Linked DNA regions of Homo sapiens: region 2 is linked to region 1. Evidence: fine-mapped expression QTL. A gene starts in region 1. The other region holds a variant in brackets. All regions are shown on one strand. Distances are between the middles of the regions. Region 1 holds the start of DOCK11 (dedicator of cytokinesis 11). Region 2 overlaps DOCK11 (dedicator of cytokinesis 11).

Evidence for each region.
Region 2: its variant is fine-mapped to the expression of DOCK11 in lung (TOPMed, PIP above 0.99). The same link has a PIP of 0.9 or more in whole blood.

What each region holds. Positions count from the first base shown.
Region 1 is chrX:118,492,385-118,497,906 of GRCh38, forward strand. It overlaps DOCK11 (dedicator of cytokinesis 11), which reads left to right and starts at 3,431. Exons shown (of 53, transcript NM_144658.4): 1 at 3,431-3,689. The coding sequence starts at 3,588. RefSeq lists enhancers at 2,769-2,838, 3,241-4,219 and silencers at 3,249-3,388, 3,499-3,578, 3,669-3,728, 3,899-3,958.
Region 2 is chrX:118,602,489-118,607,488 of GRCh38, forward strand. DOCK11 (dedicator of cytokinesis 11) reads left to right here. Exons shown (of 53, transcript NM_144658.4): 24 at 2,750-2,868. Among named protein-coding and RNA genes, the nearest start is that of DOCK11, 110 kb to the left of the region's middle. The variant T/C (reference allele first, on the strand shown) is at 2,005.

The DNA of each region.
Region 1 (5,522 bases):
TAATACTTGTATCTCAGGTTCAATTAGGATAGAATTAGGATAGTGTTAATGCAGCAGCTAAATTTGTGATAAAAACTGAATATATTTAACGAATGTGGAAAAGAAATCGCCCAATAAAATGCCCTATTGGAAGTTGTAAGATTGCACCTACGATTTCTCTTTACTATGTGAGTGCAGTTATATCCAAATCCTACCCATTCCGCAAAGTCCAGCTCAAATGCTCAAACACCCCCTGTTCCAGAAAACCTTTCATAGACCTAAGAAGATATGATCTCTCCTGCCTTTTTTTTTTCTTTTTTCTTTTTTGAGATGGAGTCTCACTCTTCTTGCCCAGGCTGGAGGGCAATGGTGCAATCTTGGCTCAGTGAAATCTCTGCCTCCCGGGTTCAAGTGATCTCCTGCCTCAGCCTCCCAAGTAGTTGGGATTACAGGTGCCTGCCACCATACCTGGCTAATTTTTGTATTTTTAGTAGAGACGGATTTTGCCATGTTGGTTAGGCTGGTCTCGAACTCCTGACCTCAGGTGATCCACCCACCTCGGCCTCCCAAAGTGCTGGGATTACAGGCATGAGCCACCGCGCTCGGCCTCTCCTGCCTCTTTACCTTGAGTATGGTCTGTATCACATACTACTTTGTACCATAAATACATTCTCTACTAGACTTTCTTTTTTTTTTCCCAGAAGGAAATAGTGTCTTTAATTCATACTGCATTCTCCCTCAGTGTGTAGCACCATGCTCAATGTTTATGTATTTAAATAGAAGTCTTAAACCAGAAGAAGTGAAATCTACAATCTCAAGAATGAGCATAGAGCCTGCACAATGGCCAGATGGTGTTTGTGCACCATCAGTGTGACATATGCTTCCCATGGCTCACAATACTCTGCAGAAATTGCTTACTTCTCCTACTCTATCTTGTACCACTCTTCTTCCTTCTACGCTCCAGCCACACTGGCCTTTTTTTGGTCTTTGAACACACTAAGTCTGCCCCCATCTCTAGGCCTTCGTTCCTGGCATTTCTGTCGCCTGGAATGGTCTACCTGCTGATCTCTGCTGACTGCTTCTTTAAGACTCAGCTCAGTGTTTACCTCCTCAAAGAAGCTTTTCTTGATCATCTATTTTAAACTAGGTCCCCAACTCCAGTTACTCTCTATCAACTCCCCTTAATTCTCTACATAGCATTTATGTTTCTGAAATTAACATGTTCATTTCTTTGCACTGACATGTGAGCTCCAGGAGAGGAGGGACCTTGCCTGTCTTGTTCAATGCTGTGCACCTTCAGTGGCTACCATAGAGCCTGTGGTACTAAGAATGCTTTTGGCTGAAAGTAACAGAATATTCATCTAAACGTGTCATAAACTGCAGGGGTTTATTTTTCTTACATAAAAAGGAACTAGAGGTAGGCAGTATCAGGCCTGGTTCAACAGTTCAATGCTGTCTGGATTCTACATTGGCTTCTCTGAGATTGCCTTGGCCTTGCCTCATGGTTGCAATATGGCTGCCAAGGGCCAAAGCATTGCAAGAAAACATCCCTCTCAGGAAGAAAGTGGGGCCTGGGCCTCTCTCCTTTTTTTTTCATCAAGGTAGAAAAACTTTCCCAGGAACCCTCCTCTCACACTTCCCTCTTATATCTTATTGGCCCAAACCGATTGGGAGTCTAGACCATCCCACTAGTCAATAAGAGGGAGCTTATCATGGTTTTTTCATCAGTCATGATTCATCACCTGGAGTTGGGCCTGCCTTCCTTAAACCCTGTGGCTCTGCCCTATATCTGAAGTAAATCTGGGCTCTCTTTGCAAGCAAAAAGTGTTATAGCTATTGTGGTGGTAACCAACAGCATGAGCCACACAGGCATTTATGGAACAGAGGGTATGAATTCTTGGAGATCAGCCTACACGCAACAATTAACAAATTTTACACGTACTGTGCAAAACTAAGATTTGTGACAGAATGTCTTTAGAGGACTTCCAGGTCCCAGGCCCTCTAGGAGCCTCCATATATGCTTTATTGAGACTGATGGGATGGCTGAAATAGGCTTACTGCGAAGAGACTTGGCCTTTTCTGGGTTCAAAGAAACCATCACCACGCATGCCCTTGTTTCCATAATAAAGTCCCCTAAAAGACTGTTTGGTCTTTGAGGGTGGGGAAAGTGCCCGATGGGTGGTGGTAGGACTGCTTTCAGAAGGGCTGCTCGGTCCCCCAGACTGAGGGCCATTTTCAAACTCTCAACAAATGAAATAACCAGATAGAAAACTGCCACCATCAGTGGAGCCTTTCACTCTGCACTTCAGGAGGTCTGACAGGGTCACTAGTACTTCAAGATTCCCGTCCCTATTTCTGTCTTAAGCATGTTCGTTTTATACCCTGTTATGAGATGTTCTTTGATTCTTGGAAAAACAATTTCTTGGAAGCTGAAAAGAGTAAGGAGATGAATAGGAAATGGAGAGGTGAGTGCAGGGCACTTGTAAAAGCTACTATAAGATTGGTAAGTCCACCAAACCCAGGGAGATGGCCTTCCTAATGCCCACCCCCACCCCACTCCTGGTGCAGTCAGTGCTGACCTAGGGATCACCTGCCACAGGCTCATCCTAATGCCCACCCCCACCCCACTCCTGGTGCAGTCAGTGCTGACCTAGGGATCACCTGCCACAGGCTCAGGCTCCACCACCCAGCTCTCCCCCGTGGGGGACGGAGCGAGGGGTGCCGCCACAATAAGTTCCCACTTCCAGAAGCATGCTCTCTCCCCAGTGTTGCCCCCTGTTAGGTGAGCCAACTGAGTAGGAAAACGGTGTGGGCGAGGAGGGGGACCCAGTCGAGCCGCTCACGCTGGAAAGCAGCTCTCTGTCCTTCGACATTGGTGCGACCCTTCCCCAAGGAGCACACAAAAGGCGGCTGCTCCACGTTGTTTTCCAGCCCCTAGCCGCCTGGGCCCTGGGGGCTTGCGGGGTGGAGGGACGTGAGAGTTCTCCAGCCCTCCTGCGGGCACTGCAGCTCGGAGGCGGGAGAGGAGCACTAGGGCGGGAGAGGAGCACGCCCCACTCTTGGAGACATTTCATCACCCCTCTCTGTTCCCCCACCCCACCCCGCCCTCCCCACTCAAGCGGAAAAAAAGAAGCAGCCCAGATCTCCCCTCCCGGATGCGGCTGCACCAGCAACATCAGCTGCGGGCGGAGCCCGAGCGGTAGCCACTTCCCCCCTCTTCCCTCGTGACCCTCGCCCCCACCTCCAGTTCTCCCTCCCCCTCTACACACCCTTCCCCATCAGACACACCCTCCTGCTTCGGCTGGTGGCGATCGGAGCTCGGGCCCTCTAGGGGAGGGAGCTGCCGCCGCCGACGCCGTGGGGCAGGACAGTGAGCGGGCGAAGCGAGCGAGAAAAGGAGGGAAGGAGGGAACGAGGGAGGAGCAGCGGGTGGGAGGTGGGAGGGAGGAGCAGCGTGAGCCGCGCCGCCGCCGAGCTGCGATGTGGCCGGCCGGCCGGCGAGTAAACAGAGGGAGCAGCAGCGGCCGCGGCCGCCGCGGGCCGGGGCAGTGAGTCCACCCGCCCGCCGAGGTCCGCCCGCCCGCCGAGACCCGCCCGCCGCCGCTGCCATGGCCGAAGTGCGCAAATTCACCAAACGGCTCAGCAAGCCTGGCACGGCGGCTGAGCTCCGGCAGAGCGTGTCTGAGGCCGTGCGGGGCTCCGTGGTGCTGGTGAGTGGCCGGGGGACGGGGCATCCCGGGGGACGCGCTCCAGGCGGGAGCGACGCGGGAAGGGGCAGGAACGGCGCCAGTGCGGCCGCTTGGTGCGCCGCGCGCTGTCTTTCTCCGCTCCAGTAAGTTTTCGCACCGGCAGCCGCCGGCCGGGGTCCGAGTCCCAGGCGCCGGCTGACAGCTCTCCGGCCGCCCGGCACGGCGGAGGCGTGCGCCGGGATGGAAGCAGACGGGCAAAAGCCGGGCTCGGACGGCTGCGGAGGAGGCGGAGGCGGAGGCTCCCACCCAGGGTCGGGGCCGGGGGTGTGAGCTAAAGAGCTGACCTCGCGCTGCTCTGGACTCGGCACAAAGAGCCGGGGACAAGGGCACGACGAGATCCTGATCCCCTCCCGCGAGCACCTGAGGCCGCCTAGGCGGAAGGATGCGATGAGCGTTTGGCACACACACTCTCGCGCGCACACATACACACACTGTGTACACAAAAAAGAACCCCACCCAGAAAGCCCCGGGCGCCCAAGCTCGGGCTGGCGGTGAGAACAGAGGAAGCAGAGCGACTTCCTCCTGCAACTGGGGAGAGAGGGTGGTGATGGGTGTTGAAGGGGTGCTGCTGCGGAGGAAGGGCATTAGAAACAACGGGGTTCTGCGACAGAGTGGGCGCAGGGTCATCCACCGCAGGGAGAGTGTGTCCCTCGGGGACACGCGAGCGCTCCAGAGGCAAGGGGACCAAGGGGACGGTGCCGTGGGGATTTGGGGGAAGACTGGGTGTGTCAGTCCAGGGATGGAGGACCTGGGGTCAGAGCCCCACAGCTCAGGACTGGGGGATGGGGATTCGAAAGCGCGCTGACTCCCTGGGAACCCTCCCAGAGCACCCTCAGCCTTATCCAGATTGTCTGACTCTGGAGAAAGGCTAAAGGGTGCTAACGGGCACTTGCCCCTTCTCTTGTTTTCAAGACACTCGTTGCCAGTTTCCTGGACAAGCGAACAAACCCTGAATAAGCAATCGGACTGATTAATTAGTGTTTGTTTTGTTACTTTGTTTTTTGGTTGTTGTTTTTGTTTGTTTTTGTCTCCCTCAGCTCCATTTTACAGCGAGTCGTTTGCTGTGTTTAAATTTCACCGTTTAAGAGAGGGCTCTTTTTGTTAAAACAACTTGTCATCGGAAGGGAACTTCACAGCTTTTCCTTGTAATTTTTCTGTTGATCTTGTAGAATCAGCAATAAAACCCAGCATTAAAGGGAGGCCAGGGGCTTGATCCCAACAGTGGAGAAAGTTGACATTAGTGGGAGTTCTGGAGGAGGATCAAAGGTAAACTATGTACCTTTGAGATAAAGATCTGATCCCTAATAGCTACAACTGTGCAAACCTAAGTGACTTTAAAGAAATCTCTTTATTGTGGCTAGACCCTTGAAAGTTTAATTCTGCTGTTTAGTGGAGCTAAATCCAGACCTTTAATGTTACTTTAATGGACTTGGCTTGTGTATTTCAGTCTGATTTTGGAGTGAGGACCTGTTGAGGTCAGATTGGAGCCTTGCCTGTCATCACAGCCAGTTAAGAGAGGAAGGCAAGCTGTGTGCAGAGCATTTATACCAGGGCTCTCATCTTGGGTGATTGTTAACACGTGATTCAATCTACCTAGCAGAGAACGCTTTCCTAAATTCAGAGAAAACAAAAAACCTTCCTTGAGCGGGGTTGGCTGGCCTTCTACCACAACACGTGAAGAAAGCTGTAGGTGGCCAGATTTCTCGAGAATAAATGGGACTAAGAAAACTTCCACTGGGATTTGATCAGCACTTGACCTGCCACCCTAGCAGCAAAAAGTTAACATTAGCATTC
Region 2 (5,000 bases), 110 kb after region 1:
CACAAGTGCTGAGGGTTCGGTGAACTGAGGAACTACTGTAGACTAGAGGGCTCCTGTCTTTTTTTTTTTGGAGACAGAGTCTCACTCTGTTGCCCAGGCTGGAGTGCAATGGTATGAACTCAGCTCACTGCAACCTCTGCCTCCCGGGTTCAAGCTATTCTCCTGCCTCAGCCTCCCAAGTAGCTGGGATTACAGGCATGCACCAATATGCCTGGCTAATTTTTGTATTTTTAGTAGAGACAGGGTTTCACCATGTTGGCCAGGCTGGTCTCGAACTCCTGAGTTCAAGTAATCCGCCTACCTCAGCCTCCCAAAGTGCTGGGATTACAGGTGTGAGCTGCCGCGCCCGGCCTACTTTCTTATTTTATTCATTTATTCAGTAAGTCACCAAATATTTATTGACCATGTAGTATGGGCCAGACATTGTTCTGGATGCTATGAATCAAATGGGGAACAGTTTAGACAGCATACCTTTTCTAGTTGTGGTAGAGAGATTATAAGTGAGTGCCATGAAGAAAAGAGCAGGTTAATGAGATCCAACATGACCAGGAGTGTATTCTACATAGAGTTGTCAGGGAAGGCCTATTGGGGGAAATAGCATTTCAAGCTGAAAGGATGAGAGGAAGACAACCTTAGGGGGTAAAGTCGTGTAAAAGGATAACAGAATATCACAGTAGGTGTAAACACCTTACATCAGCATGTTTGAAGGACAGAAAAATAAAAGACCGTGTAGCTATAGTACAGTGTGCATTGTGAGGGGAGGATGGCAAGTGACAGGTTTGGCGGGACAGGCCGGGTATGTCGTAGGCATGGAAGCTTATGATAGCTCTTTGTTCGTGGTAGTTTGTTTTGTTTTGTTTTGTTTTTTAACAACAGAAAGATGGCAATGTCTAATTTGCATTTCAGAAAGAACACTCTGGCTGTCATGTTGAGAATAAATTACAGAGGACTGCTACTGGTAGCAGGGAATGCCCATCTCTCTTTTCTACCTGGCACTATTCTATTTATCATTTACCCTTTCTCATCTCTGAGGCCTTACCAGACATTCCCTACCCACTTGCACACTCAGTTGCTTCTTTGTGCATTTTGTATATTCCATGATCATGCTATTTACTGTTGATATTGCAATTATTTAGTTCCATGTGTTTATCCCCTGTACACTGTGAACTACTTGATGGTAGAAACCATGGCCTTTATTTGTTTGGGTTTACTTTTGTTTTTGGTGTGCTTGGCTATTGGAAGTTCATTTGTTTGCCCTTTGTCGAATGAGAAAATGAATGGTTTCACTGAAGTGGGGATTTGTACTTGCCTTGAAAGAGTAGCCAGGATTTGGCTAAAAACGATGAACAGACACAAAGGCAGGAAAGTATATGATATATTCAAGAACAGTGAAGAAACCAGAGATACCAGTTTGGCCTTGTAGAGAACAGTGATGATTGTTTAGGCTGAAAATGTCAGTTAGGTCTGAAATAACTTGGTCTTGATACTCTACGCCAGGATTTCTCAATCTTCGCACTATTGACATTTTGAGGTAGAGTTATTCTTTGTCCGTGAGGGTCTGTGTGTGCGTCGTAGGATATTTAGCAGCATTGCTGGCCTCTGACCACTAGATGTCAGTATCACTCCCTGGTTGTGACCACCAAAACTGTTTCCAGACATTGCCAAATCTGTCGGGAACAAAATGGCCCCTGGTTGAGAACCACTGCCATAGGCTATGGGGAGACATCGAAAAAATCTTGGCAGGAGGTGGTCTAATGTAACGAGTATTTGAGGAAGATTAATTTAGAAATGAGAGTTGGATGTATGGAGAGTAAAGAGAAATTGTACAGAGACCTGCTAAAAAGAAAATGATTTATACTATTTTGGTTATTGATTAGAGGGTCTTGAAGACAGATAGTGGCAAAAGTCAGGGAATCTGGGAAAGAGAATTTATGAGTTTTTTAAGTACAGAGACTTGATTTATCCACCTCTCTATTTCCCCTAGCACTACACATTGAATTGATA[T/C]AGAAAGATGCTCAGCGAGGTTTGTTTCCTTTTTTTTTTTTTTTTTTTTTTTTTTTTGGTTAGCTGGTTGAGTGAGTGAATGATGTGGAGAGAAGGGAAGAAAGAAGAAAGAAATTGAACAACTTTCACTGTTTGTATTATTTCTCTGTATATATGATCACGTTTCTTCTTTTTGATGTTTGTAACGCACTTATCATTGGAGACACAGTGTTAGCACTTTGAAGGAAATGTATTGTGAGATTCTTAGACTGCAAAAGTGCTTCCGTTTTGTAGTGGTGATGGTGTAGAGCCAATTACATATAGAACCACTCTTTATTGCATTCCACTTAACTTGTCACCAGATTAACTGATGCCCACATTCCCCTGCAGAACATACAGAATGCCTGGGGGTTAGTAGATGCATCTCCAGTATCATCTCCAAACATCTGTTCCTCCCCACTGCCCCAGGCAATTGAGTGTTGGTTTACCAGGAGTCAGTTGTCAATTTTCTAAAAACTGTTTATCCAAATTATACTTATTAGCTTTAGTAAAGTGTTTAATGTTAAATAACAAAATCTGAGTGCCAAATAGAGGTGTGGATTAAGTAATTAACAAAAAAGCCCCCTATCCAATGGAAAGCTCACTTTTAATTGAGCTTATATGCTAGTCAATGTATTTCTCACTACTTAATTTTTTTGCTGTTTCACATTTGCAAATTTTATCATATTTCTGTTTGTTTTCATAACTAATAATGACTTAATTTTAGTGTTTGCATGCCATGGAGATCCAAGTCATGATACAGTTTCTACCTGTAATTCTTATGCAACTCTTCCGAGTTCTCACAAATATGACCCATGAAGATGACGTTCCTATCAACTGCACCATGTGAGTTTTGGTGTTATAATACAAAGATGCTATTTATTTGAGATCTTTCTTATTTTTTAATGGAGGTATTCATTACTATAAACTTCCCTCTTAGAACTGCTGTTGCATTCCATAGGTTTTGGTATGTTGTGTTTTCATTGTCATTTGTCTCAAGATATTTTAAATTTTCCCTTTTCTTTTTTGACTCAGGAACATGTTTAATTTCCACCTATTTTGAATTTTCCACGGTTTCTCCTGTGATTGATTTCTAGTTTCATTCCATTGTGGTTGGAAACAACACTTGATATGATTTCAGTCTTCTTATAATTCTTAGGGCTTGTTGTGTGGCCTAACATATATGGTCTATTCTGGAGACTATTCTATGTGCTCATGAAAAGAATGGATATTCTGTTGCTGTTGGATGGAATGTTCTGTATATGTCTGTTAGGTCTATTTGGTCTAAGTGTAGTTCAAGTCCAATGTTTCCTTATTACTTTTCTGTCTGGTTGATCTGTCCATTGTTGAAAGTGGGGTATTGAAGTCCTCTATTTTTCTATTGCAATATATTTCTCCTTTCATGTTCGTTAATATTTGCTTTATGTATTTAAGAAGATAAATATATAAGTTCCAATTGAACTTTTTCCAATTATGTAAATGTTCTGCACTTGTGTTGTTCAATATAGCAGCCACCAGCCACATGTGGCTATTGAGACTTCAACTGGGGCTGGTTCAGCTGAGGAACAGAATTTTTTTTTTTTTTTTTTTTTTTGAGACAGAGTTTCGCTCTTGTTGCCCCTGCTGGAGTGCAATGTCTCACTTCGCCTCCCGGGTTCAAGCGATTCTTCTGCCTCAGCTTCCCGAGTAGCTGGGATTACAGGCGCCCACCACCATGCCCGGTTAATTTTGTATTTTTAGTAGAGATGGGGTTTCACCATGTTGGTCGGGCTGGTCTCAAACTCCTGATCTCAGGCGATCCATCCGCCTCGGCCTCCCAGTGCTGGGATTACAGGCGTGAGCCACCGCTTCCTGCAGGAACTGAATTTTTAATTGTGTGTAATTTTAATTTTAATCAATTTAAATAGACACAGGTGACTAGGGATGCATATTTAACAGAATGTGGCCCCAAGCCATCAATTTTTACTTGAAAGAATAAGGAAGTATTATTTTTATGTGAAAACAAACAAGGATATATTGTAGAGTAGAATGCAAAATGCACCTGAATTTTGAAATCAAAACAGGGTACTTAAATTGTGGGCTGAGTGCTGGAAGTTTCTGGCTTTGGCTTTGCTGCCTCTGCTGTTGCCACAACCTCTTCCAGCAGGCCTCACACCACAGCCACACACCATTTGCGGGCATCGCTGCTGTTGGGGATAGTGTTGTTGAAAATGGAAGAAACTTTAGGCCAGTGGTTTCCAAAACATGGTTCCCATACCAGTAGCATCAATATCGCCTGGGAACTTAGTAAAATTGTTAATCATTGAGCTTCACTCCAGACCTACAAAATCAGAAATTCCGGGAGAGGGGCTGAGCAATCTATTAAAAGGGCCCACCAGGTGCTTCTGATATATGCTAAACTTTGAGGACACTGCTAGTCTCTTACCCCCAATTATAGTTCATATCATTACACCTGCCCCGGCTCTCCCTTCCTTTTCCCCGTTGACATGCTTTTCATTGCGTCTTTATTCCTTTCCTTTCCTTCTCCTTTCCTTTCCCTTTCCTTTCCTTTTCCTTTTCCTTTCCTTTCCTTTTCCCTTTCCCTTTTCTTTTCCTTTCCTTCTTTTTTTTTTTTTTTTTTTTTTAGGTGGAGTCTAGCTCTGTTGCCCAGGCTGGAGTGCAGTGGTGCAATCTTGGCTCACTGCAACCTCTGCCTCCTGGGGTTCAAGCAATTCTCCTGCCTCAGCCTCCCGAGTAGCTGGGATTACAGGCGCCCACCACCACACCCAGCTAATTTTTGTATTTTTAGTAGAGACAGGGTTTCACTGTGTTGGAAAGGCTGGTCTCGAACTCCTGACCTCATGATCCACCTGCCTTGGCCACCCAAAGTGCTGGGATTACAAGCATGAGCCACCGTGCCGGGCCTTCATTTTTTTTTTTTTTTTTTTTTGAGACAGAGTCTCGCTCTGTTGCCCAGGCTGGAGTGCAGTGGCGTGATC